2 linked regions of the Homo sapiens genome follow. The protein of the gene in region 1 interacts with the protein of each later gene in a pairwise test. Each region holds a gene or a part of one and is shown on either strand. Other genes may lie near its edges. The genes, in order: SYNDIG1 and SLC41A1.

The links.
Region 2: the proteins of SYNDIG1 (region 1) and SLC41A1 interact in binary tests that used the Homo sapiens proteins (3 or more experiments, as listed by UniProt).

Annotation. Positions count from the first base shown.
Region 1 is NC_000020.11:24,537,333-24,552,805, reverse strand, and holds part of SYNDIG1 (synapse differentiation-inducing gene protein 1), read right to left. Parts: intron 9,787-15,473; 5' UTR 9,709-9,786; coding exon 9,229-9,708; intron 6,938-9,228; coding exon of another isoform or gene 6,935-6,937; exon of another isoform or gene 4,177-6,934; intron 1-4,176. UniProt on the Homo sapiens protein: May regulate AMPA receptor content at nascent synapses, and have a role in postsynaptic development and maturation.
Region 2 is NC_000001.11:205,810,199-205,826,525, forward strand, and holds the start of SLC41A1 (solute carrier family 41 member 1), read right to left. Parts: upstream 3,001-16,327; 5' UTR 2,610-3,000; intron 892-2,609; exon of another isoform or gene 890-891; 5' UTR 244-889; coding exon 1-243. UniProt on the Homo sapiens protein: Na(+)/Mg(2+) ion exchanger that acts as a predominant Mg(2+) efflux system at the plasma membrane.

The sequences.
Region 1 (15,473 bases):
TATAAGTCATGCTGCTATAAAGACACATGCATATGTATGTTTATTGCAGCACTATTCACAATAGCAAAGACTTGGAACCAACCCAAATGTCCAACAATGATAGACTGGATTAAGAAAATGTGGCACATATACACCATGCAATACTATGCAGCCATAAAAAATGATGAGTTCATGTCCTTTGTAGGGACATGGATGAAATTGGAAATCATCATTCTCAGTAAACTATTGCAAGGACAAAAAAAAACAAACATCTCATGTTCTCACTCATAGGTGGGAATTGAACAATGAGAACACATGGACACAGGAAGGGGAACATCACACTCTGGGGACTGTTGTGGGGTGAGGGGATGGGGGAGGGATAGCATTAGGTGATATACCTAATGCTAAATGACGAGTTAATGGGTGCAGCACACCAGCATGGCACATGTATACATATGTAACTAACCTGCACATTGTGCACATGTACCCTAAAACTTAAAGTATAATAATAATTTTTTAAAAAAGCCCTCTTCCTTGGCAATAATCGTCTCAGTGATTGGCTTTCTGTGTGTGGAGCAGCAGGTTCTAGATGGAACCCCTGGTGTTTCAGTGACAGAAGCTTTATAATAAAATGGCCAACAGTTCAGCAAGATATAACAATTATAAATGTACACACTCTTAACAACGGAGCCCCAAAACACATGAAGTAAACACTGACAAAATAAAAGAAAGAAATAGACAATTCCCTAAAAGTAAATATTTCTGATACTCCACTCCTAATTGTGACAACTAGGCAGACAAACAGAAAGAACAGGAGACACGAACAGGAATTAACTCACACGACCTTGCGAATCTGTATAAAACACTTTGCAGGACAGAACACTCATTCTTTCCTTGTTCACATGGCATATTCCCCAGAACATATCAGACACTAAGCCACATATCAAGTCTCAATCAATTTAAAAGAGAAATTATACAAACTATGTCCTTCAACCTTAATGAGATTTAATTAAGAATAAATAATAGGAAACAACAAAATCCCTGAATATTTGGAAATTAAACAACACATTAATAAATAACTCATTAGAAAAATAAAAAATCACAATGGCTACAGAAGTATTTTCAACTATATAAAAATTAAAACACAACAAATCAAAATTTACAGGACACAGTTAAAACAGTGTTTGAAAGAAAGTGATAGCCTTGAATATACATTATAAGAAGAAACAAATGTCAAATAAGTAATCCCAGCTCACGCCTAAAAAAAAAAATAGGTAAAAAAGAACAAATTTAAGCCAAAGGAAACAGAGGGCAGGATGTCATAAATATCTGAGTAAAAAATTAATAAAATGGAAAACTAAATAACGAGAGAAAAATCAATGGAACCAGAAGTCAGCTATTTGAAAAGATCCAAAAAATGATCAATTTCTATCTAGACTGACCAAGAAAGAAATAGAGAAACTTAAATTACTAAAATGAGGCATGAAAGAGTAAATATTACCAACCATACAGAAAGTAAAAGGATTTAAATGGAATATGATGAACAACTTCATGCCAACAAATTAGGTGTCACAATACTAAAACTGGGACAAGAATAAAGGACGATCTTCAGATTTTCTTTAAAACAAGAGACTTAAACTAGTAAAGTAATAGAATCAGTTCAGTAATTGAAAATCTTCCCACAAAGAAAAGGCCAGGCCCAAATGCCTTCACTGGTGAGTTCTAACAAACAAAAAGAAATCATACCAATACTAAACAGAGTCTTTCAGAAAATAAAGAGAGAAATAATTCCCAACTTATTCTATGCAGCCAATATTACCTTCATACTAGAGCCCAGAAAAGATGGCACAAGAAGAGAAAACTGCAGATCAACATCCCTCATGAATATAGGCACAGAAATCCTTATCCAAGGATTAGAAAAGATCCAGTGACACTTAAAGAGGATTATAAACCACGACAAAGTGGGATTTACCCCCAAATGCAAGGATGGTCTGTTATCTGCAAAGCAGTTAATGTAGGCTGGGCGCAGTGGCTCACACCTGTAATCCCAGCACTTTGGGAGGCCGAGGCGGGCAGATCACGAGGTCAGGAGATCGAGACCATCCTGGCTAACACAGTGAAACCCCGTATCTACTAAAAATACAAAAAAAATTAGCCGGGCATGGTGGCGGGCGCCTGTAGTCCCAGCTACTCGGGAGGCTGAGGCAGGAGAATGGTGTGAACCCGGGAGGCAGAGCTTGCAGTGAGCCAAGATCGCGCCACTGCACTCCAGCCTGGGCGACAGAGAGAGACTCCGTCTCAAAAAAAAAAAAAAGCAGTTAACGTAATATACCACATGATTAAAGGATGAAAAAATAAAGGACAACAAAGAAACACCACACATGATTACCTAAGTAGTACCTGACGAATTGAACACCCATATGCAACTCCCTAGAAAAACCACAAATAGAACTACCATACAATCCAGCAACCCCACTACTTGGCATTTATCCAAAGGAAACGAAATCAGTATATTAGAGAGACATCTACACCATGCGTTTGTTGCAGTGCTATTCGCAATATCCAAGATATGGGATTAACCTAGGTCTCCAACAACAAACAGATAAATGGATAAAGAAAATGGGGTAGTTGTACACTGATAGGACAGGAATCAGGGAAATACTGGGTAGAAGAGGGCAGTTTCCTGGCAAAGCCCCATCCTCAAGCCTGGATATCTGTGGCCCTAAGTGAGAAAAGGCATTCCTGTTTTTGTACCCAAAAAGTTGTATTTTGGCCCGCATGCCTACACCCATATAAACCCTGAAACCCAGGACCCAGAAGCAGACTAGCAAGCCAGAAGACCAGCAAATAGACAGATGGCAGAACAACATGGCAGAGAAAGGGAGAAGAGGAGGAACATCTGAATGCCGAGAGGAGTTTGGTTGGGGATGGTCAGAGAGGAGTCCAGCCACTGGGTGGCCCAAGTCCAGGGGAGGATCACCTTCCCACTCCAGTATCCTTCCCGGCTCCACATCCATCCCACTGAAAACCACCTCTACCACTCAAAAAAACTTCACATTCATCCTTCAAGCCCGTATGTGACCTGATTTTTCCAGGATGCTGGGCAACAGCTCTGGATCCAGCCCTCTGTCCTTGCGAAAAGGCAAAGGGCCCATTGAGCCTGTTAGTATTCAAGCCGTCTGTGGACAGCAAAGCTGAAAGAGCTTTGTAACAGTGGGGTTGCAGTCACCCACCCCTAGACACTACTGCAAGGCCAGAGCATAAAGCACTCGCCCCAGCCTCTGCACCTGCCCTTCTGCATGCTCCAGTCCTGCAAGGGGTTTGAGCAGCAACAGAACAGGTGAACCACACCCACCCCACGTCCTGCAAGGGGAATCAGGGAACTCTCCCATTTCAACACCACAGGATACTATTCAGCCATAAAAAAATAATGAAATTATGTCATTTGCAGCAAATATGGATGAAACTGGAGGACATTATGTTAAATGAAATAAGTCAGGAGGGAAAGTTAAGCATTGCATGTTCCACTCGTGGAAGCTAAAAGGAGTTAATTTTATAGAAGTAAAAGTAGAAGGAAGAATAGTAGAGAGTGGGCAGAGTAGGAGGAAGGGAGAGATAGGAAGAGATGTATTAAAACATACAAAATTACAGCTAGATATGAATAACTTCCAGTGTTCTACAGCACTGTAGCATGAAAACAGTTGAAAAATAATATATTATGCAGTTTCAAATAGCTAAGAGGAGGTTATTGAATGCTCCCAACACAAAGCAATGATCAAAGTTTGAGATAATGAATATGCTAATTACCCTGATCTGATCACCATATGTTACATGTATCAAAACATCACTATATACCCCATGAATATGAATATCCCATTTATTTGTCTATTAAAAAATAAAATTAAATAAAAAATAAAATAAAAAACCTCTTCAACAAAGTAGTGACAAAGGGAACTTCCTATACCTGATTATGAGTGTCTACAAAGAACTACAAAAACATCACCTTTCATCATGAAAGCTAAAAGCTCCCCCTAAGATCAGGAGCAAGGCAAGGATGTTCGTTCACTCACACTAAACAATGTATTTGAGGTTCTGGCCAGTGCTATGAGGTAAACAAACAAATGAGCAAAACAAAACCCCCAAATTTCCTTCCACCCAAATCAGCAGCACCTCAAATCTCTCTGGAGATACTAAAAATAATTTTCAAAATGCTGTTTATTATTTTCTGAACTCTTTCTCTTTCCTCTGGGTCAACTGTTCTATTTGTTGTTGTTCTGTCTCATTCATGCTTTTGGGTTTTCTTCACATGTGTGTTGAGTCCTCGCCCCTCTTTCCATACTTATGACTGAGGTATATGTAAAGTGCTCTATTGCAGTTATAGAATTCTGTGTCCTCCAACAGCTTTCAAGTTTTTACATGGGAAGACAGACTGGAAGGCCTTGGAAAGCTTGGCGGAGAGTTCACAGAAGTGAAGTCCTGGTGCCGTCTCTTCCTGCTTTGTCCTTGGACTCTGGCATAATGCTGAAACAGAAGTTTACTGGAACACATTTTTCCCCCTAATGTAGAAAGAACAGCATCATCATGAGGAGACAGAGTCTAAAGTCAGGAGATCTGTCTCAGATCCAAGGGCTGACAGCAGAGCCACGTGTGTGATCTTGGAAACACCCCAAGTTTCTGTCTCTCCACGTGTAGGATGAGGACAGCACCATGACCCATCCCCAAGCGCTTCGAGGATTCGATGGCCAAGTGCACTTGGAGGGCGTGGCAGAAAAGGTGCTCCATCGATGAGCGTTCCCTTCCCCCTTCTTCCTTCAGTGAAGAAAAGGCTCAGCCCCCATGGGCACCGCTTCTAGGTGGTGACCGTCATGTACTTCAGGTCTGAGAGGTTTTGCATTGCCACAGGTAAGTGCCATTCAACATCTGGTCACCATCTCTAAGGGCAGGAGGGTGGTCAGGCCTCTGCACCTGGACTCCATCCACTTCATTTCATGGCTGTAAACTCAAATTGTATATTTTGTAGACCTACTTCATTACTTGTCCCTGAAGTCTCTCTGAGTTTATTTGTGTGAAAGGAGAAGTGGCTTCCCACTGCTGGTATTCCCAGAGACAGCAGTTTTTAGCTACTGGCTGGGAAGTGGATGAAGCAGTGTTCACATACCTGGGAAGAGGCCTGGGCTGTCGGACATCAGGCCCAATTATCACTACCCAGGATGCCCTGAGGGCACCCCCACAGGATGCCTGTCTTGTCACCCTGAGCGCAGTGGCACTAGATAATGAGCGGCATGGCACCTCTGCACTCCCGCAAAGCCCCAGAGGTCCCCTACATCTACCTGTCTAATGTCAAGCCATGCTCTACTTGGCGACTTAAGGTGGAGCAGGACAGATCATAAACACTTGCCGAATAGTTGAGAACCTCCCATAAATATTCTCAAAGTTAGCCATAGAACCTGTTCTTGTTACTACCACAACCTCGAAGGCAAACTGAACGCTCCACATGCCCTTGCAAACATATGTCAGACAGGCCGACCTCTTCGGACCTGGAGAGGCTCCTTCATAAATGCCAGGGATGCACCTGTCTTGGGAAAGTGATTGGGGAAAACACAGCCAGCCACCCAGTGCCCAGGAGCTCCAGCAAGGGAGCCCCGCTCAGAACCAGGGAAACGAGGGGCCCTGCTCTGAACCAGGGCAATGAGGGGGCCCTGCTCTGACCCAGGACAATGAGAAGGCCCCACTCTGAACCAGGGCAATGGGAGGGGCCCTGAACAAGGGCAATGAGGTGGCCCCCTCTGAACAAGGGCAATGAGGGGGCCCCATTCTGAACCAGGGCAATGGCTTTTTGAAAACGGCATTATTTGGGAAACAGTATCCATTTGCTATAAACCAAGTGAAGCTATACAATACTCAAAGAAGTTAAAAATCACATTTTTTTTTCTTTTTTGGCTGAGTAGAACTGCCTTCTGGAAAGAGCTCAGATCAGTATTCACTGTTCTTTTGTTTCAGTAGTTGTCATTCTGTTCAGTTAGACCATCTGAAAAAAAAAATGATGCCAAAAGTCTATGGTTTTTGGCTCTGTGGTTGCAGTACTGGCACCCAATTTGTTATCACTTCCCTATATTGTGACCCTAAGCAGTCTCTCCCACACTGACTGAGCTTGGCTGTGGGACCTGCTCTGGTCAATGAGATAGTAACATGCAGGACACAGGCAAAGACTTGACAAGCCCTCACAAAGTGGGCCCCACCTCTCTGGCTGCCGCAAAATGAAGCCTGGGACAGGATGGGTGACAGCTGGGTGATGCAGTTACCTCTGTCACTGCAGCCAACAGCCCACCAGAGGCTGGCTTCCCAGCCTATCACAGCTAGCTATGGACAAGTGAGTGAGCCCAGGTGAGACCAGCAGAACAATCACCCAGCTGAGCCCAGCTCAATTGCCGACCCTCAGAAATCATAAGCTGAAGAAAGAGTTGTTAAGGCACTGTGTTTTGGGGGTGATTTGTTATGCAGCAAATGCTAACCAATACATGACCCTTTATTATTTAATGGAATGGAGAAAACAGTAAACCAAAGAACAGCTACTGCATGTTCAATGACACTTCTAACCAGTCATTAGTATTTTGTTAATTACCGAAGAAGGGAATGAAAAGCACCATAGCTATACTGTAAGAATGTTTCTGAGAAAATCTTTGTTTTCAGAGAAAAAGGACGAAGTTAACCACCGTGGTGAGGCTCTGAAATCCTCCTTGGCATCCTGAGCCGCATGTAGAAGCAGCAGCAGCCATAATGTGTCTCCATTCCTTCTGCTCAGAGCCTGTGGAAGGGGCCATTTCTTGGTCCAGGTGAGCTCCTTGGAAGCCGACCAGAAAGTCTCACTAAAGTGCCTAAGTAAACAACTTGCTGTTTCATCGATGTTACTTTAGTATAAATGCCAACATGCTCCATCTTACGTTATATTCAAAAGTCACTAGAAATATTAATACAGAGTAGGCACCGTTATTATGACTAAAGATTCTTATTGCTGTATTATTAAAAGAATTGTTTCTGGTGGGCTTCCACTTCTGCTGCTAGATCAGAGAAGCAGGACTGGGTGGGAAAGGTTACCTCCCCAGAAGTCTATACTACTTGTCAGAGCCTTGGACCTACTAAGACAGACAAGTCTGTGTCTGCCCCCACCCATTCCTAGCTTTTATTTAAGCTCCCCTCAAGCCTCCTCTTACTCATCCTCAAGACTCAGCCGGGGGAGGGCTCCTGCCTGTGTGATGACTTCTGAACCCCGCATTGAGCTCAGGGCCCCAGACCCTCTTCAGAGCTGATGGGGTATTCCATTCCCATAACTCCTGGGGCTGCATTTTCGTGCATCTGCCTCTCTAATTCCACTCCATGCGAGTCGGGCAGCATTTACGCTTTGCTGTCAGCAAAGCCCTCAGATCTTGGAAAACTTAGTAGACAGGGCAGAGGCTTCTGAACAGAAGCCAAGCATGCTCCCAACTTTCCACAGCTGCAGCGTGAGTGCCCTCCCTTCACAGGTGTCACCAGAGGGCATTGGGGCCTGCGCAGATGCCCAGGCATCACGTCTTGGTCCTCTTCCATGCCACGACTCTCCACTCCCTGCCAGTGGGCTTCCCGGGCTCCACCGGCTGGAGTTGCACCAAAGTTTCCCTCTCCATTTCTAATCCTCCCTCCTGACTAACGCTGGATCTCTCAGCTCCTGGTTCTCAATGGGGTCTCTCCAATCCTGATCCTCTGGTCTCCTTGGCCTGTCATTCCCTTGCAATTTCTCCGGCCTTTCTATCAAGTGTGGGGTCCCATGGTTGTGGGTCTGATTCTGCTCCAAACTTCCTCCCTATTGCTTTCTCCTGCCTCCTCCACCTTCCAGGCAGAGTGCACCTTGCCAAGGGAGCCTCACCTGCTAAAGATGGTCCCACATGGCTGCAGAAAGTCACAGAGCCCTGGGTCTGACCAGATCTTCACACAAACTCATACTGCAGCTGGGCAGTTTCTCCAGGAGTCTTTTCTAGAATGGGCACTTCCCCCAGTTCATTGCTCTAGACTGTCTGCAATCTCCTCACACCCCAGGAGCTTCTCTGGCTGTGCTGATGCTCAGCCAACACGAACCCCTCCTTTTCTTCCTCTTCAACCCAGAGCCCTTCAAACTTTCCCTTACCCCACCCTTCTCTTCTCTCCCAGGCCAGCATGTGGACTTCTTCTGAGAGGCCAGCTCTCACACATACATGCTTGGAGTTCAGCTCCTGCCTCCCCAAGACCACTCCCCAGCTGCTGGCCACGATCCTGAATTTTCCATTCTGAACATTTCCTCTCCACCTACAAAAATGTTCTCGCCTACCTTAGTGAAAAACAGACATCCCTTCCCCTTTTGGCCACACACTGCCTCTGAAGGTTGGACCTGCTCGGCGGTTTCCTTCCCCACCAAACTGACGGAAAGCCTGGCACGTGTTTCCCTGACATCGCGTCCTGGGAAAACACCCCTGGCCTCACTGCAGTGGAATGACTTGGGAGGCATGGGCAGCAAACCGCTAGTCCATGGCCTGCAGCAGCTGCTCTCACCCTCTCACCGGTGCTGTCCTGGGGGGACAATGTGCCACACACTCAGCAACCACTGTGCCTACCACACTATATCCAACGTGCAGTGTGTACATCTCTGTGCATGTAATTCAAATGCTGTCACCTGCCCTCCAGTCCATTAAAGAAGCGAGTCATCTAAGAAGTCAACTTATCTTCCCTTCAGGCTATCAGTACCTACACTTTCTTCCAGCACGGTTCAGCTCTATCAACAATCTCTCAGTAGTAACTGTGGAATGCAAAGTCAAGGAACCACAGGTGACAGTAGAAGCACCTCCCAAAGTGTCCCCTGTCAAGTATATTTCCAGCCTCATGTGGCTCTAGGATCAGGTGTCCCTCTCTCATCTTGTCAATGACCTCTCTGTCTCATGGGATGCGGGAGAGCAGGGAAAACCGATGAACCCACCAGCACTGCCATCTGCAGCCATTACCTGGGGTCATCTCATACCAGAATCACCGGTGAAGCGCCCCTGGGTTTCTGTTAATCTAAGTCTTTCCTCTCCTTCTATCTTCCATAAGCACTCAAGAGTGAAGGGCACCAAGACTGCCTTTGGTTTCTGCATTTTTGCACACTAGTTTCATTCCCTAACTTTTGCCAGGCATTCATGGCTCCTGCCCTCCCTAGAATCCCCATCACACATTCTTAGAGGGCCTCTGACAAACACATCCTGTGACCTCCAGCTCCTGGAACTCCTCCTCCTCCTCCACATCGTAGGACAGGGTGTGGATTTTTATGTCATCAGCTGAGAGGTCAATGAACTTCCCATCCGGGTACTCGAGGCTGTCTTTGGTGGGCGACCGGTCCTCGATGAAGGTGGTCTCGCAGCAGTCGGCGGCCACACCGTCCCCCCAGGAGCGCAGCACGCCCTCTGAATAGAGGATGATGTTGGGCCGGTAGCGGGACTCCACTGACTGCTGCAGGGTGTTGGGGTCCAGCAGCTGCTGCATCGGCTCACTCCTGCTGCTGTCCAGGCTGGCCGGCACTGTGCTGGCCCCCACCCGGTGGCTCTGGTACTGGGGCGCTGGGTAAACAGACACCAGACCATCTCTGCTCTCGGCCATCAAGTTTCTGGTGTTAATTAAACCATTCCTCTTGCCAGCATCACTGATTTTACTGTGCACCAGCATGCTCTTCTGTTCAATGATGCCATCCATGGTACTCTCTCCCTGGCTGGGCGTCAGGCTGGTGGGCTGGGAATGTAGGTTACACTTGCCTCAGGGAAGCCATTTCTCCTGGAGGAGGAGAAAACAGAGATGAGACAAGAGAATCACACTTGAAAACAAGCTAATCACCCAGACCCACATTGTTTCAGACTGTACCAGCCAGCTGATAAACGCATAGTAACTGTGAGAGTTAGATAAAATGCAGTCCTACCTATTCAGTGAATGTTAAAAAGGGTCTGTGGGGGCGGCTAGCCAGAGTTAGCAGAAATTGATTACCTGAATCTCTATAAAGTCTCTGCTTCCAAATGAAGGAGACTGCAGGAATTGGCTCCCTTGCAGCCTAGAGGAACCTTTGATTGCTAGCAGACATCCTGAAACCCACAGGTAAACCCAATCGCATTAGCATCTGACAAGTCCATAGGAAAACAGAACTGCAAATCTGTAAAGGCGATTAGCTCTTCCCAGGTACATGGCTGTTCATTCAAGCAGGAAATTATGTGATTGCAATAATCTCTACTTAGTGATGATCTTGAGGTGTCAAGTCCCAAACACGAATCTGCTACTGAGGCATCTTGAGAGAGGCACAGCTTGGTCTCCTAGGGTGCTCTCTATAGTTGGCCACTCAGAATTTGCTGAGAACCAGAAGCATCAGCACCAGCTGGGAGCTTGTTGGAAATGCAGAATCTTGAGTAGCACCTGCACCTACTAAATCAGAATCTGCATTTTAACACGATCCCAGCTGATGAGTCTGCACATTAAAGCTGAGGAGGTGCTGGGCTACAGTGTACAGTGCACATTTTGGCCTGCTGAACAAGTTGATTTTACAACTGATTATTTACTAAATTTTAAAATGTACTCAAATTATGTCAAACAATTTATTTTTTTAAAAGAACAACTTTTTTTTCTTATTGAAGTGAATTTTTTCAATTTTGAGTATCATAAATTATGACTAAGTATGAATGAAAGGGATCAAAATTAGTGGAATTTTATTTTGTCATTTCCGCATCCTTCGATATCTCTTTCAACACAGACTGGTTTGTCATATATATTGCCTTTGCTTCATAATTCCCATTAGCTCATTTCCTTCCACGTTTGCTGGTACCCACTCCTACCTGCTCAGAGCCTTTCCCTGGGCCTGGGTTCATCCGCTCAGAGATGAAACTGGGTTGATGGGAGGAGAGAGAATGCCTCTAATGAGGCTGCCATCTAGGGTTATCCACATGGCTCTCTGTACCAATGCACTCCGGAGTCTTGCCCCAGGACAGTGCTACTGTTCTTCCAATTCCCTTTATAACTTTTGTGGGATTTTTTATTTATTTTTTTCTCAGTCGATGATACTCAGAACCAGTAGCTACAGAGATGAAAGCCTCCTGCCTGACTCTTTATTTCTGCATAAGCAGTCTCTGCTATGTCTAGGATGCTCCCTTCTCTTGACCAAACACTTTCTGGGCTGCATCAACCACTGAGTTCCCCGTGTCATCATCTTATAAGACTGGGAGTCTGGTTTTGAGCTTGGCAGAGGAAGCCGCCTTAAATGCATCACTGGCCAATCATGCTCCACCTGCTTCCTTATAGAGGAAGGCAGCTGGAGGAGGAGACAGGATGAAGAGGGGCCTCTGTGGCCTTGCATTTGAGTCCCTAGTTCTTAATCTCTTTCTATAACACTATTGTAAGAACTCTCCTGGGGAGTTACTAACATGCACAGCTAACCATGAGTCGTGGTGAATATCAGGTGAGTGGGAAAATTGAGGGGTTGTGAAAGAAAAATATAAGTCAGAAAGTAGGTATACAACATATTCTATACAAGTTTTATATTCTACATAAACACATATACATTTTTTTACTTGGAGACTGTCACGGTATAAAGAACACTTTTTACTAAAAGTCACGAGGCCAGAGATTCAGCCCTAGTTTTGCTACTAAATATCTGACTGTTGGCAAGTGGCTTATGAAAGTGGAACTATTAATGGGGTGATTGAGCAAGGAAAGTTTTCAGGTCCCTTTCAGCTCTGATTTTTTCTGTCTTAGTCAAAGAGTTTTAGGGTTTTATGGCAATAGATAGAGATTTTCTACAAAATGGCTTCAGTGGTGAATTGTAGCAAACATTTAAAGAACTAATACCAGTCCTTCTCAAACTTTTCCAAAAAAACTGAAGAGAAGTGAGCACTTCCTAAGTCATTCCATGAGGTCAGCATTACCCTGACACCAAAGCCAGAAAAGACACCATAGGAACATTACAGACCCATATGCCTTATGAACACTGATGTAAAACTCCCAACAAAATACTACTAAACTGAATTAAGCGGCATATTAAAGGAATCATATACCATGATCAAGTGAGATTTATTTCTGGAATGCAAGGAGGGTTAAAATCATGAAAATCAATCATTGTAATACACCACATTAACAGAATGAAAGACAAAAAATACGTAATTATCTCTATTGACATAGAAAAAGAATTTAATGCCTTTCTACTAAGCATTTCTGGAAAAGCATTGATGCTTTTCCTTTTCATGATAAAAACATGAAACAAACTAGGAATAGAAAGAAATTACCTCAACAAAATAAAAGCTATATTTGAAAAATCCACAGTGAACATCATACTCAATGGTGAAAGCACCTGTAACATCAAGAACAAGGCAAAGATGCCCACTTTTCCCACTTTTATTGAACACTGTACTAAAAACTGTAGCCAGAGAAATTAGGCAAGAAAAAGAAATAAAAGGCACTTAATTGGAAAGGAAGAAGTATGATCTCACATATAGAAAACCCTAAAGATTCCACAAAAAAATCTATTAGAACTAATAAATGAAGTTAGCAAAGTAGCAGGATACAAAGTTAATACACAAAAAATCAGCTGCATTTCTATATACCAACAATGAAGAATCTGAAAAGAAATTTTTTAAAAATTCATTTACAATAGCAACAAAAAGAACACAATACTTCAGAATTAATTGAACCAATGAGGTGAAGGACTCATACAAAGAAGTCATCAAAACATTGCTGAGGCAGGGCATGGTGGGTCATGCCTGTAATCTCAGTACTTTGGGAGGCTGAAGTGGGTGGATGACTTGAGGTCAGGAGTTCGAAACCAGCCTGGCCAACATCATGGTGAAACCCTATTTCTACCAAAAATACAAAAATTAGCTGGGCGTGGTGGTGGGCGCCTGTAATCCCAGCTACTCATGAGGCCGAGGCAGAAGAATTTCTTGAACACAGGAGGCAGAGGTTGCAGTGAGCTGAGATCGTGCCACTGGACTCCAGCCTGGGTGACAGAGCAAGACTCCATCTCAAAAACAAACAAACAAACAAACAAACAAACAAAACACTGCTGAAAAAAATTAAAGAAGACACAAATAAATGGGAAGACATTCCATATTCATGCACTGGGAACCTTAACATTGCTAGGATGTCAGTACTACCCAAAGTTATCTATAGATTCAGTGCGATCAGTAGCAAAATCCCAGTAATGTTGTCTGCAGAAACAGAAAAACCCATTCTAACATTCATATGGAATCTCAAGGAGCTCAGGCTGGACTTAGAACAAAGTAGGAGTACTCACACCTCCTGATTTTAAGACTTACTACAATGGCACTAGAATCAAAACAGTGTGATATGGCATAAATACACACATATAGACCAAGTGAATAAAATAGAGAGCCCAGAAATAAACCCTTGCTTATACAATCAAATGATTTTTAACAAGGGTGCCAACACCATTCAATAGGGAAAGGACATTTTTTTTCAACAAATGGTGCTAAAAAATTGGATATCCACATGCAAAAGAATGAAGTTGAACCCTTACCTAACACCATATTCAAAAACCAATCCCAAATAAATCAATCACCTAAATGTAAAATCTAAAACCATAAAACTCTTAGAAGAAAACAGGGCAAAAGCTTCATGACATTGGATTTGTCAATGATTTCTTGGATGTGACACCAAAGGCAGAGGCAACAAAAGAAAAAACAAGTTGGACTTCATAACAATTTAGATATTTTTGTGCATCAATAGACAATATCAACAGAGTAAGAAAGTAAGCCACAGAATGGGAGAAAACATTTGCAAATCATATATCTAATAAGGAATTAATACCCAAGATATATAGAGAATGGTTAAAACTCAACAACAAAAAATAATCTGATTCAAAAACTGGCAAAGGTCTTGAATAGAAATTTCTCCAAAGAAGATATACAGATGGCCAATAAGCCCAGGAAAAGATGCTCAACATCACTAATAATGGGAAATGAAAATCAAAACTACATATGAGATATGACCTCATACTCACTGGGATGGCTACTGTTAAAAAAAAAAACGGAAAATAACAAGTGTTGGTGAGGATGTGAAAAAATTGGAATCCTTGTGCACTGCTGGTGGGAATGAAAAACAGTGCAGTCGCTTTGGAAAACAGTATGGCAGTTCCTCAAATAATTAAAAATAGAATTACCGTATGGTCCAGAAATTCCACTTCTGGATATATACCAAAAGGAGTTGAAAACAGGGTCTTGAGGAGATACTTGCATGCCATGTTCATAGCAGCACTATTCATAATAGTTGAAATCTGAAAGCATCTCAAGTGTCTGTGGATGAATGGATAAGCAAAATGTGCTATCTACATTCAATGGAGTATTGCTCAGTCTTAAAAAAGGAAGGGAATTCTCACATAGGCCACAGCATGGATGGACCTTGAGGACATTACTCTAAGTGAAATAAGCTAGTCACATAAAGACATATGCTGTATGATTCCATCAATATGAGGTACTTAGAGTCATCAAAAGTACTCAAAAGTAATCAAAAGTGTGGTTTCCAGGGGATGGGAGTGGTGTGAGGAGTTATTATTTAATAGGTATGGAATGAAAAGGGATATAGAGATAGATGGTAGATAGATGGTGGTGATGGTTACACATTATAAGTGTACTTAATACCACCGAACTGTACACTTAAAAATTGTTAAGATTGTAGATTTTATGCTAACATAATAAAAAATTAGACAAACTCAATTAAACTGAACTAAAATAAAACATAAAAAGAAGAGCTATCTATGTGGAGATTCATGCTAAAGTATTTACAGATGAAATAAAAGATACACTGTCTGGGACTTGTTTAAAATCATCTGGATAGGAAGGAGAAGTGCACACCATACCGAGAAAAGAAGACTGTGCGCTGACCACTGATCATCTCAATTGGAATTCTCATCTGGAATTCCTCCTCCTCCTTCACATCCTAGGATGTCAAGGAACCACAGATGACAGCAGAAAGTCAAGGAACCACAGGTGACGGCAGAAACACCTCCCAAAGTGTACCCCCTCAAGTACACTTCCAGCCTCATGAGGCTCTAGGATCAGGCATCCCTCTTTCATCTTGCCAATGACCTCTCTGTCTCATGGGATGTGGGACAGCAGGGATCCCCGATGAACCCACCAGCAGTGCCATCTGGAGCCCCATCTGACAGCCATTACCTGTGGTCATCTCTGACCATCTCTGATCACTGAAGGAGGAGTGTATACCATACCGAGAAAACAAGACTGGCAGCAGGAGTTATGAATGAAGGTGTGCTGTATACCATACAGGGAAAACAAGACTGGCTGTGGACTGACCACTGAGGGAGGAGTGTATACCATACAGAGAAAACAAGACTGGCAGCAGGAGTGATGAATGAAGGTGTGCTGTATACCATACTGAGAAAACAAGACTGGCTGTGGACTGACCACTGAAGGAGGAGTGTATACCATACTGAGAAAAGAAGACTGGCTGTG
Region 2 (16,327 bases), on another chromosome or scaffold:
TGTGCTGACGTCGTCACTTTCGTTGCTCTGGCTCCCGTTCTCCAGCAGGGCGTCCTCCTCCCGAACCCCCTTGGCGTTGGCCCGAGACTCAATCACCACCTCTACCCCAGCCCCATCAGGCCCCAGGAACTCTGAGGTCCCAGCCAAGGGCTCTCTCCCTGGGCCATCTGAAGAGCAGGGAGAGGCAGAAGGGCCAGTCCCGTTCAGTTGGTGGACGTCCTTCGGCTCTGGCTTAGAGGACATGACAGGCACGGAGGAGGGGAAGGGAGAACTTTCCTCTCTTCTTTTTGCTTTCTCTCTTCTTCTCTAACTTGGGAAAGAACTTAGTCTTGGGGTGAACCCAGGCTTGGGCGCCGCAGGACCTCTTCCCACGGCTCTCCACTCCTACCAGGCACTGCAAAAACTGATCCACCAACAGGCAGCCCCATCAAGCACTGAAGCCGCAAGCTGGGAAGAAACAAGAAATTCCTCACCAGACAGCCACTAGGGGTGCAGATGCCTGACTCCAACCCACCAGCTCTGTGCTTGAAGAAAAAGTATCTGTCCTCTTATCTTCTTTGGTTCTCAGTGGCAGGCTCCTCAGAGCAGGGGGCATCCAGAGTAGAAGAGCTCAACCAAATTCTGGGGTGCCCTCTGAAGTGGCCCCTCTTCCGTAAAAAGCAGCTTGAGTTCAAATCTTTCAGAACACAGTGCCAGCCTGGGGCTGCGGCTCCTTCCCGCTCCTTTGGCTGGGCTCTGTCAGCTTCCCACAGCTCCTCAGGCTCTGCTGGTCCCAGCGCAGCGTCTGCCGTCTTTCCCTTCTCTTCCAGAAACTTCCTCCCTTCCTGGGAAGAGCTAATACCTCTTCAAATCCCTGGTCCTTAAAGTCACGAGAATCAGTGTGGAACACCTTATGTGGGAAGGAGAAAGAAAAGAAAAAGAACATTACACTATAGCAAAGGACAGCTTGTACTGGGAGAATTTCCCCCCAAGGAAGTTAGGAGTTCATCATATAGCTATAGAGTTTGCTATTTGCCTCCCTTTTTCCGCAAAAATTACTCAGTCCTGCACTGCTCCATCTGGAGGCTCAGCAGGAGCTATCCCCGCCATCCTCCCCACCAGCAACCCTCCTGAGGGATCACCACCGTGGTCACCAGCAATGAGATGTGACCAGCCTGGGATTGGGAAGATGCTGTGCAGAAGCCCTCTGCACTGTTTCCTCAGCAACTGGGGGTGGGTAGGTGTGTCCTCAGCAAGACCCCTTCTTGAATGCCCATTAAGAACCCTGCATTATTTAAGTGGGGTTCAGTTACAAATTCAGTCACAAACTCCCTGCCACACAGCCACCCCTGTATAAAGTGACTGCTTATCATCACAAGACAGCAACAGAAAGACAGCCACACAGGGCAAAGAAATAGGGAGAAACTGATTGCTGAGTGAAGTCCCCCAGACCCCAGATCGTTCTAGCTTCTGAGAAAACAAAACAAAGCTAGGAGGACTCCCTGGGCAGTGGGGCAAGCCTGCCAGACCAAGGCCAAGAGCCAGAGGCCTACCCACTCCTGCCCTTGAGAGTCAACAGTGTTACAAAGAGCTCAGACAGCTGACTCGGATCCAGGCCTCTGTCTCTCCCCGTCTCCCCCTGCTCTTGGCCCTGTGAGCTTGTCAGATAGGACAAGGGAGTTATCTCAGTTAGAAGGGACAGAGCATAAAACGATTGCTTATTACCCACGCATTTCAGTTAATTAGGCTCCTCCTGTTCCCCAGGGTTACTGAGAGTTGGATATAGTGGAATTCTTAGAAACAAAAACAAAAAAACAAAAGTAGCAATAAAAAAAACCCAAAACAAAAACCAAAGCACCGTAAGCCAATATGCACTTGCTCCAAATGCATCTCTTTAGCTGTAATGGCTCCACTTCTCTGCCTAAAGGAATCCCCAGGCTTCCTAATTCCTGATGGACTCCCATCCTATTCCATTTCACCAGAAGAGCTCTTATTCGTAAAAAATAAATTTAAAGAGAGTTCCACCAGGTAAGAGGAACAGGTCCTTAAGTATTCCAAACACACACAATTAGTCAAGTTCAGTTTAGGAAAGGAGGTATCAAACCCCAGGAACTGGCCCAGGAGAACTGTTTCCTCTATCAATTCAGTCACCCACCAGGACTCCCTTTTCCAATCTCCTTAAACACAGTACTGTGGTTCTTTCAAACTCCCTCACCAGAGATCCAGGAGGAAACCTCTGAGTCCAGTGCCCCTATGCCAGAAAAGTTTCTGAGTCCGCTAAAAGCTGACACCCCCGCCTCCCTCCTGTGTTCCTGGCAGGCCACTGAACCTGAGAGGGGGCTCCCAGGAGGGGAAGCCAGTCCTCCCTCACCACTCCCCCTGTAAAGAGACTTCAGACAGGCCTAAGGCCCTGGGACGAAAGAAGCAAAAGTGAACCAGGACGCCCTATCCCCTCCTCCCAGGCGGGGACAAAAAAGACCCATTTTAGTATCCCCAACCCCGAGGAGGGAGAGAAAGTAACTGGGTGGCCTCCTCAGTCTCTCCACCACTCAGATTCAGCAAATGCGCTGCGCGCCAGGACTGCCGCCCTCCACCACCCCCTCCCCGCCCCAGGACCCCACAGGACTGACCTGCCCCTCGCCTGGGAGGAAGGGGGGCGCCTGGCAAGTGGCAGCGTGGCCCGTGGTCTCGGGGGGTGCAGGGCACCCCCTCTTCTCATCACTCCTCCTCGACAGTCCTCCTTGGCCCCCGGCGTGCCCCCCCACACCCCCAGCCAAGGCGAGCGTCCAGCCGCGACACCCGGCTCGCTACATTTCGCTTCTGCGTTACAGCGAGGCCGCCGCTCCGCTTCCACGCGGGGGAGGTGGCCGGGGAGGGCAGGATATATCGCTTCGGGCCCGGCGGGGGGGCACCCGGACGGGGGACCGGGGAGCCGAGCTCACGCGCCCCCAATCGCTTCTTGCCCGCGGACTCGGGCCCAACTGGTTGGCTGCCGGTGGCAAACGTGATCTGGGGCAGACTGGGTGGCACCCCCCCCGCTCCATCAAAAATAGATTCTCGGATGGACAACAGCAGCAGCCAATCAGGGACTGGGGAGGGGGCGGGATCAACCTCGGCCCGGCCCCCTTCCTTCGCTTCGTGCCCAGGAGGCGGGGCGCCGGGGAAACGCAGTAGGAGGAGTGACGGGAACCGGGAGCCGGCTCCATGCGCCTGGAGCGCGCGGGTCCCAGCGCCCATCGGCCCGGGGTCCGAGGGGCCCGCTGCCCGGGCTCGCTGCGTGGTGCTACCGCCCCCGGGCCCGCTGCGCCGCGTCGGAGCCCCAGCAGACTTTGAGAGGCGTGTGCGACAGTGCGCGTCCTCTCCTGCCTCTGGATGTTTCCTTGGAGCCTCTGGCCTTCGGGAAGACCGGTAAACGTCCCTGTGGAGCCAGCCAGCCAGCCACCTCTGACCCCCGGGCTCAAGCAGCCAGCCGCGTGCTCCCTCCTCCCACTTGGTACCCGGACAGAACAGTCCCTACCTTGCTCTTCTCCCGCCGGCTCGTCACTTTAGGCTCCCTCCAGATTCCGCGTTCCTTGAGCAAATGGCTCACCCCTGACGAATCCGGCCTTAAAAAAGTCCCGGCCTTGAAAGGGGTGGAGACTGGCGGGCGGGAGCGAAAGGAGGTCAGACCCATGGCTGGGGTCGCACACGCATCACCTGAGGTCGGAGAGGAGGGGAGCCTCACTTCCTCTGACCCACTGAGCCTGGTGGCAGCGTGCGGAGAGATGTCACCATCCCGGACTAAATGAAATCCAACTTTCCCTGACGCACCTTGTGGGATCAAAGAGGGGTGTTCCCATGCTCACCTTTCGCCACTTCCTCCCTGGGGTATCTCCACCTCTCCAACACAAGCTCAATGCCAGTTCTCTTTGGGATGTTTTTGTGCAGGGGGTGTGACCTCCCTCATAAAGGAACCCCCACTCCCAAGTTTTCCCCTCTTGTCAGTGGAACCTGTGACCAACGGTTCCTTCCTGTCCTTTTCCTCCCTGAAAGTAGCCCGGGGGCATTCGAACATGGCTCTAGACCCCTGAATAGGGTTTGGAGCGGAGATGTGCCTGGGGAGAAGAGATCGCAGTGCTGTGTATGAAGCTTTGGGCACGTGCTCACAAGAGCACACACAGCAACCTGAGCAGGTCATTCCTTTTGATAAGGATGACAAATACACATACCAAACCCTGTTCCCCTCACCCACCCCAAACCAGTACCCCCAGGATGATTCCAGATCAGCTCTGGAGCATTTGCATCAAGGGCCTGCAGACTCACAGGACCTACTAGAGCAAAATATCAGTGTCTCAGACCCCAGTTTTGGCCTCAAATACTGGGTTTTTCTGCCAGGAGAAGTAGCTGCTAGTCTAGGAAATGCTGGGACTTGTCCAGAAAGATGAGGTTTGTGAATACGGGGTGTGGGGTTGGGTGGGGAATTAAGGCTGATGTATCTGGAGGAACTTTGGTTGGGCTGGAGGCAACTTCTGCCCTGTTCTATTCAACAGTTCCCTCCCCTCCACTACCCCATTTAATCTGGCCACAGCTCAGCTACCTGTGTATAAAATCTTGATCTCTCTCCTATTTCCTTTCTACCTTCCGTGTTTTTACTTACTCGAAAACTGTTCCCCTCTCCTGTGTGTATTTTTTTAATTGAAATATACCAGGCATTTAGGAAAGGAACACGAAACCTAAGTGTACAGGTCAACAAATGATGACACAGTGAACACCCCCATATGACCACCATCCAGATCTAGAACGAGATCATTATTGGCATCCCAGATACCCTCCTTCTATCCGCTCCTGGTGACTATGCCACACTCCTTCTCAAAAGTAACGTTTATCTAACACTACAGGTTAGTTTTGCTTACTTCTGAACTTTATATACATGGAACCATTCAGTAGGTATTATTTTGTGTCTGGCTTCTCTCACTCAATACTATGTTTATGAAACTCATCCAAAACATTGTGGTAGCAGTAGCTTATTTGTTTTCATTGCCGTACGGTATGCCATTAAATAAATATACCACAATTTATCTGTTATTCTGTTGACGGACATTTTGGTTGTTCCTACTTTGGGGTTATTATGAATAAGGCTGCGATAACGTTTTTGTTCATGTCCTTTGGTACACTTACGTTCATATTTATACTAGATATATACCTAGGAATAGAATTACTGGGTCATAAAAGGATATGCATATTTTTAGCTTTAGCAAATGCGACTAAACAATTTTTCAAAGTGCTCATATTAATTTACACTCCTGCCAGCAGCGTCTTAGTGTTCCAGTTGCTCTATATTCTCATTAACACTTGATATTGTCAATCTAGAAAAATTAAAAAATTTAGCCATTCTGGTGGGTGTATAGTGGTATTGTAGTTTAAATTTGCTTTATCCTGATAACCAATGAAGTTGACCACCTTTCCATGCATTTATTTGACCCTTGGATATCTGTTCAAGTATCATGTCCATTTTCTATTATTCTATTCCTTCTGTCTTACTACTTTTTTTTTTTTTTTTTGAGATGGTATCTTGCTCTGTTGCCTAGGCTGGAACCTCTTGGGTTCAAGTGATTCTCCTGCCTCAGTCTCCTGAGTAGCTGGGACTACAGGCACATGCCACCATGACAGGCTAATTTTTGTATTTTTGATAGAGACAGCGTTTCACCATGTTGGCCAGGCTGGTCTCTAACTCCTGACCTCAAGTGATCCGCCCGCCTTGGCCTCCCAAAGTGCTGGGATTATAGGTGTGAACCACTGAGCCCAGCCCTGTCTTACCACTTTGTAGGAGTTCTTTATGAATATCAGATACGAGTCCTTTGTTGGTTATAGGTATTGCAAATATTTCTATGAGTAAATAAATACAAAAGCCCTTGGTTTTGGTGTCTTCTGAAGTGTCAGGGCCACTGGAACAAGAATATAATCTCTATATCTATTTTGATCACTAGTGTAAACCCAGCTCCTGGCACATAGTAGGTACTTAATAAATATGTTGAATGAATGATGGATGAGGTGGATAAAGCTGATGTAGGTACTTTGCTCTGTATTGTGCTGATCCCTAGAGTCAAACACCAAGAGGACCTGGGGGAAGCAGATTTCCTCTGGCTTAGCCAGCTGTGACCTTAGGAAGAGGAAGACATCCTGGCCCTTCTCTACTGAAAGAGCAGAAATAGCTACAGTCTGTGAAATGATGAGCACAGATGTAGGGAGCGGAGGTCACAGATGAAAAGACAGGAACTACCAGCAAGTAGCAGGCCAGCCAGATACTTCAGAAGGAGAGACGCAGTTGGGGGTATCAAAAAGATAGTGAGGGTCTCTGAGCATCACTGTGGACCTTTGTATGACAAGAACCTCCAAAGGTCATGTGGACTCTCTCTTGCCTCAAGACATGCCCAGTCTTTGAGCTTGTTAGCCAAGAGAGCTCTTCCACACCTAGAAACACATTTCTTTCTCCAAAGGAGGTTCCCTGAAACTTTGGTTGGAGGGTCTTATTCCTAACCTGCATTGGGCAACTCTTTTTTTAAAATCAGCTTTAACTTCCTCATGGCCTGTAATGTCCATCCTGAATATGGAAGACCACCGAATCAGCCTCTTCTCCATGCACTGTTTTCATAGGCCTGTTGCATTCTACAGCGTTTTTCTCTTGCTGTGTTTCTCTCCAGCATCCTTGACCAGCTCTGGTCAAGAGTCTCACTGATTCCTGTTACTCTGGGAGACAGAAATTTCCCCTTGCACCACCCTAACAAACTCACAGCATCCCCTCCTCATGTCTTTCAGAACATAATGTGGCATTTAACTAGAAGCTAGTAGTAGCACCCCAAATTTTTATATAAACTGAGCTTGGGGACGCCATCTAGTTGGAGAGAGGCTGGGTGACTTGTCATGAAACATCATTTGTATAGCAAGCACAGTGTTTTCATTTAGAATATGAGCATATGTTGGGTGTGGGGTGGGAAAGAGTGTTGTGGCAAAAGGAATTGTTGATCACTCCACAGGCAGGGGCCTGTGGAGGAGCCTGTGTGGGAAGGTCCTCTGTGGGGCAGCATTCTTCAGTCTTGCTTGGCACTTGTCCTAATATGTGGTTAATTTAGCCTCTATCCTGAGGTTCTCTTAGCCCCATGGCCTTCCTTCTGGGCCAAGTACTGTCTACCAATGGCTTCTCCATAGACTACCTGAATACTCATCTTGAGACATCATAAAATTCCAGAGCCCCATAGATCCTGGACCCCCTAACCAGCATGGCTAGTTGTAAGACTAGCCTGACGTGGCTGGAAACTTTTCTATCTTTTGTTCTGTGGGGGAGGGTGCCCCCTCCCATTTTTCCCCTTGCTGTGACCCCTCCGCTGCTCCCTCCCTCCCAGAGGTCAACTTCTTTCCTGCTGCCCAGAGCTGAGGTGACATCCCCTTCCGGCTTCATTCAGTTTTAGGAGGATGTAGTGATGGGGGTGGGATAGGGAAGTGTGGCCATCTGTGCTCAGCACTGTCATCATTCCCTTTGCTTCTCTATAACTGAGCTCCCTTTCCCCAAAGCCCCCTGGATACCCACCCTGGGATTCCCTTAGGCAGGATGGTTCCAGGTATTTGGAGCTGCAGCTCTGAATTTACTGAGTATAGCTGGGAAGCCTTGACAGCAAACAAAATGGTCTGGTGAACTATAACTGGGGATAGAAAAGTAATCTTTGAGAGGCAGTGCTGCAGAGTGGAATATGCCACAGCATTGTAATCACATGGATTTGAATCCATGAATGGCTCAGCAATTCATTAGGCACATGACCTTGGGCCATGTCTATCAAATGGAGACATAATTCCCTTTCTGCAATATATGTTCCATGGTGAGCAGTTCTATGCAAACCTACCCCCAAAGTCTGAGAAAGCTCAGAGGCCAAAGAGGCTGACAAATCTGGTTTCTTGAAAGAAGCATTTAATAGGGACTTGCGAACAGAAGCCCTGTCTATATCCCGGACAGCAGTAAGACCAGGGCTTGAATACCTTATAAGGAAGGAATACCTATACCTTACAGGGAAGGAATGTGTAGGACAATTGTAGGGAAAGGCGAGAATGCTATGTGAAGTTCCCTAAGGGCAGGATTTATGGTCAGTTGTTTTAACCTAAGAGCAGGATTTATGATAAGTATATGGTCTTACCAAGGAATAGTAGATAAAATAGAAATCTTAGAGGCATTTCCAGAACTGGAGTTAATCAGAAGTCAACATGGTGGATTAGCATCCAAGATGGAGTTGCATTAGCCTTCACAGATGATGAGAGGATTAGGATAATATAGCATTTGGAACATTCCCTGCACGCAGTAGGACTGTTAAGATCTCACCAAAGAGAAACAGCCAATAAACAGGGATTAGGCACTTGGAACGGGCAGCTCAGGCTTTTTCTGGGCCTCACGTGAAATTTTAGACTTCCCAGAGTGTGAGGGCATGCCTACCTGGAAAGGGTTAATGATGGACAGTCTCTTACATAGATGCAGGTAGGAGCTAATAGGGGCAGCAACCCCACAGTGGGTCACAAGCCAAAGATGAGCAAACTTTATCTTGCAAGAGCCAGGATGCAAAAAGACTGTATCTTGCAAACCAGATTACCTAGTTTCAAACTGCCCTCTGTGTTTACTGCCTACTGCTCTAGGATTATCCTCTAGACCAGGGTTTCCTAAACTGGCCTGGTCATAGGAATCACCTGTTGGGAACTTCTTTTAAAATATAGATTTCCAGGCCTCTTTCCTGGAAATTCTGTTTCCAAACGTCTGGTGCTGGGCCAGGAAACCTACCCTTTTAAATAAGTGCCCCAGGTGACTCCCATGATCCTACTGGGTTGGGAAACTGCCCCAGTCTGGTGGTTCTCAGTCCTGGCTGCATATTAGAATCTCCTGGGGAGCTTTAACAAAAATATACCTTTGTCACAGGAGGAAACACTGTGACAAAGGTATATTTTGTCACAGGAAGGCAAGGCTCAGGAAGTCTTCAAAGACATGGAGGTGCTTTGATTGAATCTGACTGTGTGGGTTTATATGCAAACTCATTTAATCCTAATAATTACCCTAGGAGGTAGGCTGTTGCAATATATCAGGTGGAAAATGAGGTCAGTGGGTTGGAGAATGGTAAATAGATTTAAAAGTTATTTAGGTTAGTTGTTAGAGAATTGCAAATCAAAACCACAATGGGATACCACTTCATATCCAGTAGGTTGGCCATAAAAAAAAAAGAGAGAAAATAACAGAAAATGACAAGTGTTGGTGAGAGTGTGGAGAAATTGGAACCTTGTCCATTTGCTGGTGAGAATATAATGTGGTGCAGCTGCTATAGGAAACAGTTTGATGTTTCTTCAGAAGGTTAAACACAGAATTACCATATCACTGAGCAATTTCATTCCTAAGTATATGCCTAAAAGAATTGGAAATGGGAAAGAATTATTCCAGTTAGAGAGAACAGAGTGAAATGGCAGGAAGGCAAGGGAGAATTTGGCATTTTCAAGGAACAGCAGGTTCTTCAACATGTGGTTGGATGCACGTAGGGACGTGTTAAATGAAAGATGAAATGGTAGGCTTTGGTGATATGTTACAGAGCTGAAGGCTTCTTTGACATGAACGTATTGTTTTATGCTTGATCACAAAGTCCTTGAACACAGAGACTTTATATTTTAAAATTTATATTAATTTTGAAATACCTTATATTTTAAAATTTCTGTGATGTTTGCTGACACCTTGTAATTTACACATCTGGGCCTTCTTTCTCTGTCAGACCGTTACATATGGAGTCTCATTCACTTGCATAGTGTCCATTTATGATGCTCTGTTCATGATGCCCAAATATCTTTGTCTTAGACTTCTCTTCTGAGCTCTGAACTTGGATGTCTCAGCACTTCCAACTTGTGATATCCAAAATGCGCTAGTTCTCTCCCAGATGTCTATTTCTTATTCTGTCTTCTCCATCCCAGAAAAGAGGATTCCCTCGCCCATTTGTTTGTCAGCCATCTGGGAGTCATTCTTGACTCCTTCCTCTACTTCCCCGCCTCCTCGCCCACCACCCATCAATCACCATTTGCCATCCATCGACTCTACCTCCTAAATAACTTTTTTTTTGGATTTATTTATTTTTTGAGGTAAAATTCACATAACATGAATTTAACCATTTTAAAATGTACTATTCATTGGTGTTTATTATATTGATAGTGTTGAACAACCATCACTCTGTCTAGTTTTAAGACATTTTCATCACCCCAAAAAGAAATCCTGTATCCATTAGCAGTCAGTACCCACTCTCCCCTTCCCTCCCCTCCTCTCCCTGCTTAGTCAACCACTAGTCAGTTTTTGTCTCTATAGATTTCCCTATTTTGGATATGTCATATACATGGAACCATGCAATATGTAACTTTCTGCGAATGGGTTTTTTTACTTAACTTAATTTTGTTGTTGTTGTTTTATTTTTTGCCCTTAAATATTCTTCTATCCAGATGTTTTCAAGGTTCAACCACATCGTAGCATAGATCAATACTTCATTCCTTTTTATGGATAAATAATATCCCATTGTATGGATACAACACATTTTGTTTATCCATTCATCCATGGATGGACATTTGGGTTGTTTTCACCTTTTTTGATTGTGAATAGTCCTCTGTGAACATTCATATATAAGCTTCATTTGAATATCTTTTGTTTAATTTCTTTTGACCATATACCATTGTTGGGTGATATGGCAATTCTGTTTACTTTTTTTTTTTTTTGAGATGGAGTTTCACTCTTGTTGCCCAAGCTGGGGTGCAATGGTATGATCTTGGCTCACTGCAACCTCTGCCTCCTGGGTTCAGGTAATTCTCCTGCCTCAGCCTCCTGGGAGTAGCTGGGATTACAGGCATGCACCACCATGCCTGGCTAATTTTTTGTATTTTTAGTAGAGACAGGGTTTCACCATGTTAGCAAGGCTGGCCTCCAACTCCTGACCTCAGGTGATCTGCCCGCCTTGGCCTCCCAAAGTGCTGGGATTACAGGTGTGAGCCACTGTGCCTGGCCTTTTTTTTTTTTTTTTTTAACCTAGGTTGAACTTGAACTCTTGAGCTCAAGCCATCCTCCTGCCTCAGCCTCTCAAGTAGCCAGGATGACAGGTACACACCACCATGCCCAGCCTATGTTTAACTTTTTGAAGAAACACTAAACTGCTTTCGATAGCTGCTGCACCATTTTACATTCCCGCCAGCAAGGTACAAGGGTTCCAGTTTCTCCACATCCTCACCAACATTTATTATTTTACATTTTGGATTATGGCCAACCTAGTGGATGTGAAGTGGTATCCCACTGTGATTTTGATTTGCATTTCCCAAATGACTAACCTAAGTAACCTTCTAATTTGCCTACTTCATAGGGTAATTATTAGGATTAAATGATTATATATATATATACACATGCATACACACACACATGTGACTTAGAACAGTGCCTGGCATATAATAAATAATGTATAAGTATTAAAAAGAAAGTAGAAAAAGGAACAAAAGAACAGAAGGAAAGAAGGACCTCTTAGCTATACTTTCTTTCTTACTGTCCTAAGTCAAAGCCCACAATTCCACTCCTAATTTACAAGGCCCCAACTGGACTTCTTTTCTTTTCTTTTCTTTTCTTTAGCCAGAGTTTCACTCTTGTTGCCCAGGCTGGAGTGCAATGGCGCAATCTCGGCCCATCGCAACCTCCGCCTCCCGGGTAAAAGCGATTCTCCTGCCTCAGCCTCCTGAGTAGCTGGGATTACAGGCATTCGCCACCACGCCTGGCTAATTTTGTATGTTTAGTAGAGATGGGGTTTTTCCATGTTGGTCAGGCTGGTCTTCAGCTCCCGACCTCAGGTGATCCTCTGCCTTGGCCTCCCAAAGTGCCAGGATTACAGGCATGAGCCACTGTGCCTGGCCAACTCCTTTCATTTCATGAAGGTTTCAGGCTCTCATTTGCCTTATAGTCTTTGTCTACTGTATTCCCTGTCTGGCACAATTCTCTCCCTTGTCCCCCAACTCTTTGCCTAGCTAACTCACTGTTTTTTTGTTTGTTTGTTTTGTTTTTAAATTTAAGAGTTTTTTTGAGGTATAATATGCAATAAACAGCACAGATTTAAGGTGTACAATTTGATGTTTTGACATGTGTATACATCAGTAAAACATCACTACAATCAAGATAAAGAGTATATCCATGACCCCTGTGTTTCTTCCTGCTTCTTTTAATCTTTCTCTCTCAACCCATGCGTTGGGCCACCTGCCGTCTGTCACTACAGATGTTTTTCATTTCTAGAATTTCATATGAATGGAATCATGTAGTATATATCTTTTTTGTCTGATTTCTCTCATTCAGCATACTTATTCTGAGATTTATCCATGTTATGTGTATCAACAGGTTGTTCCTTTCTGCTGTTGAGTAGTGTTCCATCATATGGATGCACCTGTTTGTTTATTCATTCACCTGTTGATGGACATTTCAGTTGTTTCCAGTTTGGGGCTATTACAAATAAGGCTGCTATATGCAATGTGTGCAAGCCTTTTTAGGGGTATATATTTTCATTTGTTTTTGTTTTTCAAGTTTTGTTTTAGACTCAGGGGTACCTGTGCAGGTTTGTTAACTGGGTATACTGTGTGATGCTGACGTTTGAGGTATGAATGATCTTGTTACCCAGGTACTGAGCATAGTACTCAACAGTTAGTTTTTCGACCTTGTTCCCCTTTCCTTGCTCCCCTCCAACAGTCCCCAGTGTCTATTGTTGCCATCTTTATGTCCATGACTACCCAAACTTGTAAGTGAGCACATGTGCTATTTGGTTTTCTGTTCCTGTGTTAACTTGCTTAGGACAATGGCCTCTGGCTGCATCCATGTTGCTACAAAGGACACGATTTTGTTTTTTTTTTTTATGGCTGCATAATATTACATGGTGTATATGTACATTTTCTTTATCCAAACCACCACTGATGGGCACCTAGGTTGATTCCATGTCTTTGCTATTGTGAATAGTGGTGTGATGAACATGTGAGTGCACGCGTCTTTTTGGCAGAATGATTTGTTTTCTTTTGGATGCATATCCAGTAGTGGGATTGCTGGGTCAAATGGTAGTTCTGTTTTAAGTTCTTTGAGAAATCTCCAAACTGCTTTCCACAGTGGCTGAACTAATTTACATTCCCACAAAGAATGTGTAAGTCTTCCCTTCTCTGTAGCCTCGTCAACATCTGTTGTTTTTTGACTTTTTAATAACTGCCATTCTGGTTGGTGTGTGATGGTATCACACTGTGGTTTTGATTTGCATTTCTCTGATGATTAGTGATGTGGAGCATTTTTTTCATAAGTTTGTTGGCTGCTTGTATGTCTTCTTTTGGAGAGTGTCTGTTTATGTCTTTTGCACATTTTTTAATCGGGTTATTTGTTTTTTGCTTTTTCAATTGTTTCAGTTCCTTATAGATTCTGAATATTAGACCTTTGTTGGATGCAAAGTTTGCAAATATTTTTTCCCATTCTGTGCTTTGCCTAGCTAACTCTTACTCAACTTTGAAGTCTCAGCTTCAGTCATGACTTCCTCACCAGAGGCTTTCCTGATTTTCCAGACCAGGCACCATGTGGTATATAAAATAACACCTTATCTCTCAGACCCAGGCAAGAAAGCCCCCTGCCTCGAACTTAATGCTTTAGAAGGCATCATATAATATAACCACAAAGGAAATAAATCCATTAAAAACACAGAGATGCTTCTGTCCCTTGGGATTCTGTGCTCAGCACTGGCACAGAACAACCAGTAACACTGAACACACATTACTGAGTCTAATACAGTTCAGGCTCCGGAGGTCACTTCTTTATATATCTTGTTCTGTCTCATTTATTTAAGTTGATAGATAAACACTGTATGCATTTATTGTGTACATGATGTTTTGAAATATGTATACATTAAAAATATGGAGTGCTTCACATATTTTTGTGTTATCCTTGTGCGATTGTGTTGTTTTAATTGGAAATTTGTATTGTTCCAATTTTAGTGTATGTGCTACCTAAGCAAACACACTTTATGTCTTTAAAAAAGAAAAAGGTAACTGTGTCTGGATGCCCTGAAGGTTTGTGGGTTGTATCAGTGTGAACTTTGGAGGCCACTGTGGTTTTGGAGTATAGGCAGGAGTTGAGCTGTCAAAGTGCTTAGCTAAGAGAAAAGAAAATTAACTTGTCAAATGCTTCCTCTTAGGTAGCATGGCTGTAGTGGATTCCTTTTTTCTGAGACAGAGTCTCCCTCTATTGCCCAGGCTGGGGCGCAGTGGTGCGATCTCAGCACACTGCACACTGCACACTGCTTGAACCTCTGCCTCCCCGGTTCAAGCAATTCCCGTGCCTCAGCCTCCTGAGTAGCTGGGATTACAGGCGCATGCCACCACACCCAGCTAATTTTTGTATTTTTAGTAGAGACGGGGTTTCACCATGTTGGTCAGGCTGGTCTCAAATTCCTGACCTCAAGTGATTCACCCGCCTCAACCTCCCAAAGTGCTGGGATTACAAGCATGAGCCACTGCGCCCTGTCTGTAGTGGATTTTTTTTTTTTTTTGAGACGGAGTCTTGCTCTGCCGCCCAGGCTGGAGTGCAGTGGTCATCTCAGCTCACTGCAACCTCTGCCTCCTGGGTTCAAGCGATTCTCCTGCCTCAGCCTCCCAAGTTGCTGGAATTACAGGTGCCTGCCACCAAGCCCAGCTAATTTTTGTATTTTTAGTAGAGACGGTCTTGCCATGTTGGCGAGGCTGGTCTCAAACTCTGACCACAGGTGATCCACCTGCCTCAGCCTCCCAAAGTGCTGGGATTATAGGCGTGAGCCACTGCGCTCAGCTGTGTAGTGAATTCTTGCATGAAATACTATCTACCAGTAGTGCTCAGTGTCCATTTTCTTGCTCTGTTTTATGTTCCAGTTTCTGGTTCTGGAGGTACCCATGAATTAGTGTAGTGTTTGCAACATTGCACGTGGGAGCTAAGGAACATTTTGTAGTAATAAATAATTTATATTATCCTTAAATTTTTATATTTGTACCTCTAGATACAACATGTTAAACATGATACTGGTTCTTTTTATTGACATTAGATGGACACTGAATGCTAGAATTGCAAGTAGGTTTGTTTTTATAAAAATATTTCATTAGGCCAGGTGCAGTGGCTAACACCTGTAATCTCAGCACTTTGGGAGGCCCAAAGTGGGAGGATCACTTGAGCCCAGGAGTTTAAGACCAGTCTTAGCAACACAGTGAGACCCTATCTCTACAAAAAAATAGAAAAAAAAATAGCCAGGTGTGGTGACGTGCACCTGTGGTCCTAGCTATTCAGGAGGCTGAAATGGGAGGATCTCTTAAGCCTCGGAAGTTGAGGCTGCAGTGAGTCATGATCTTGCCACTGCACTCCATCCTGGGTGACAGAGCAAGACCCCCTCTCAAGAAACAACAACAACAAAAACCAACCGTCTTTGATTAGATTTGAATTTTCAAAAAAAAATTTAATGAAATGTTCAGCTCTCAAGTAGGAACTTTGTCTCCTATTATCTCCCTTGGATAAAAGGAATACTGGGTTTAGGATGGCCATGTTTTTAGCAACCCAGATTCACAATCAAGGGATTCCAGCCAAACTTTCTGTTCCCATTCTCTTTGCTTATGAATATTTTGTCTTCCTTCTCGCCTTAGGTAGTGAGGTGTAAAAAGCTTGAGCTAAGTCCTTGATAGGGGTGTAGGATGTACCTGTGGTTATCTGTTGGAGCTCTTTCATTGGGGGATTTGGGAAGTGGTCTAGATGGATGGGGACGGAGTGGCGGAAAGTCACCGATTTGTTGCCTCATCCCATCCAGAGTCTTTTGTTTTTTGAGATGATGGTCTCACTGTATCACTCAGGCTAGTCTCAAACTCCTGCCCTCAAGCGATCCTCCTGCCTCCACCTCCCAAAGTGCTGGGATTAAAGGCGAGAGCTACTGCGCCAAGCCCCAGCCAGTCTTGAGGCTGCTGTTGTTCCAGCCAGGCTGGGGACTTTGAACTGCTCTCTCGAGAAGCCTTCAGGGACCACTGGGCTGTAATTCATGCGTTCTCGGAGCCAGGATTTGTAGCAGTTCCCTCTCATGGGCTTCCTACCCCCTCTGGAGCTTTTTTTCTACAGCTGGAAGAGTGTAGTGAGACTAGAGGAGGAGAGGGTCTGCTGTTCACTCTTCTCCCAGTTGCTCTATGATCATTAGAGACCTGGTTGTTCCCAAACTCAGAGAAAAGGGAAAAAAGCTGAACCCAGAAGCTGGGGGTGGGGCTGGAAAGAAATGCTGGCAGACAGCGGGAGAGGTGTGAATAGGGAGAGTTCAGCCAGAGGAAT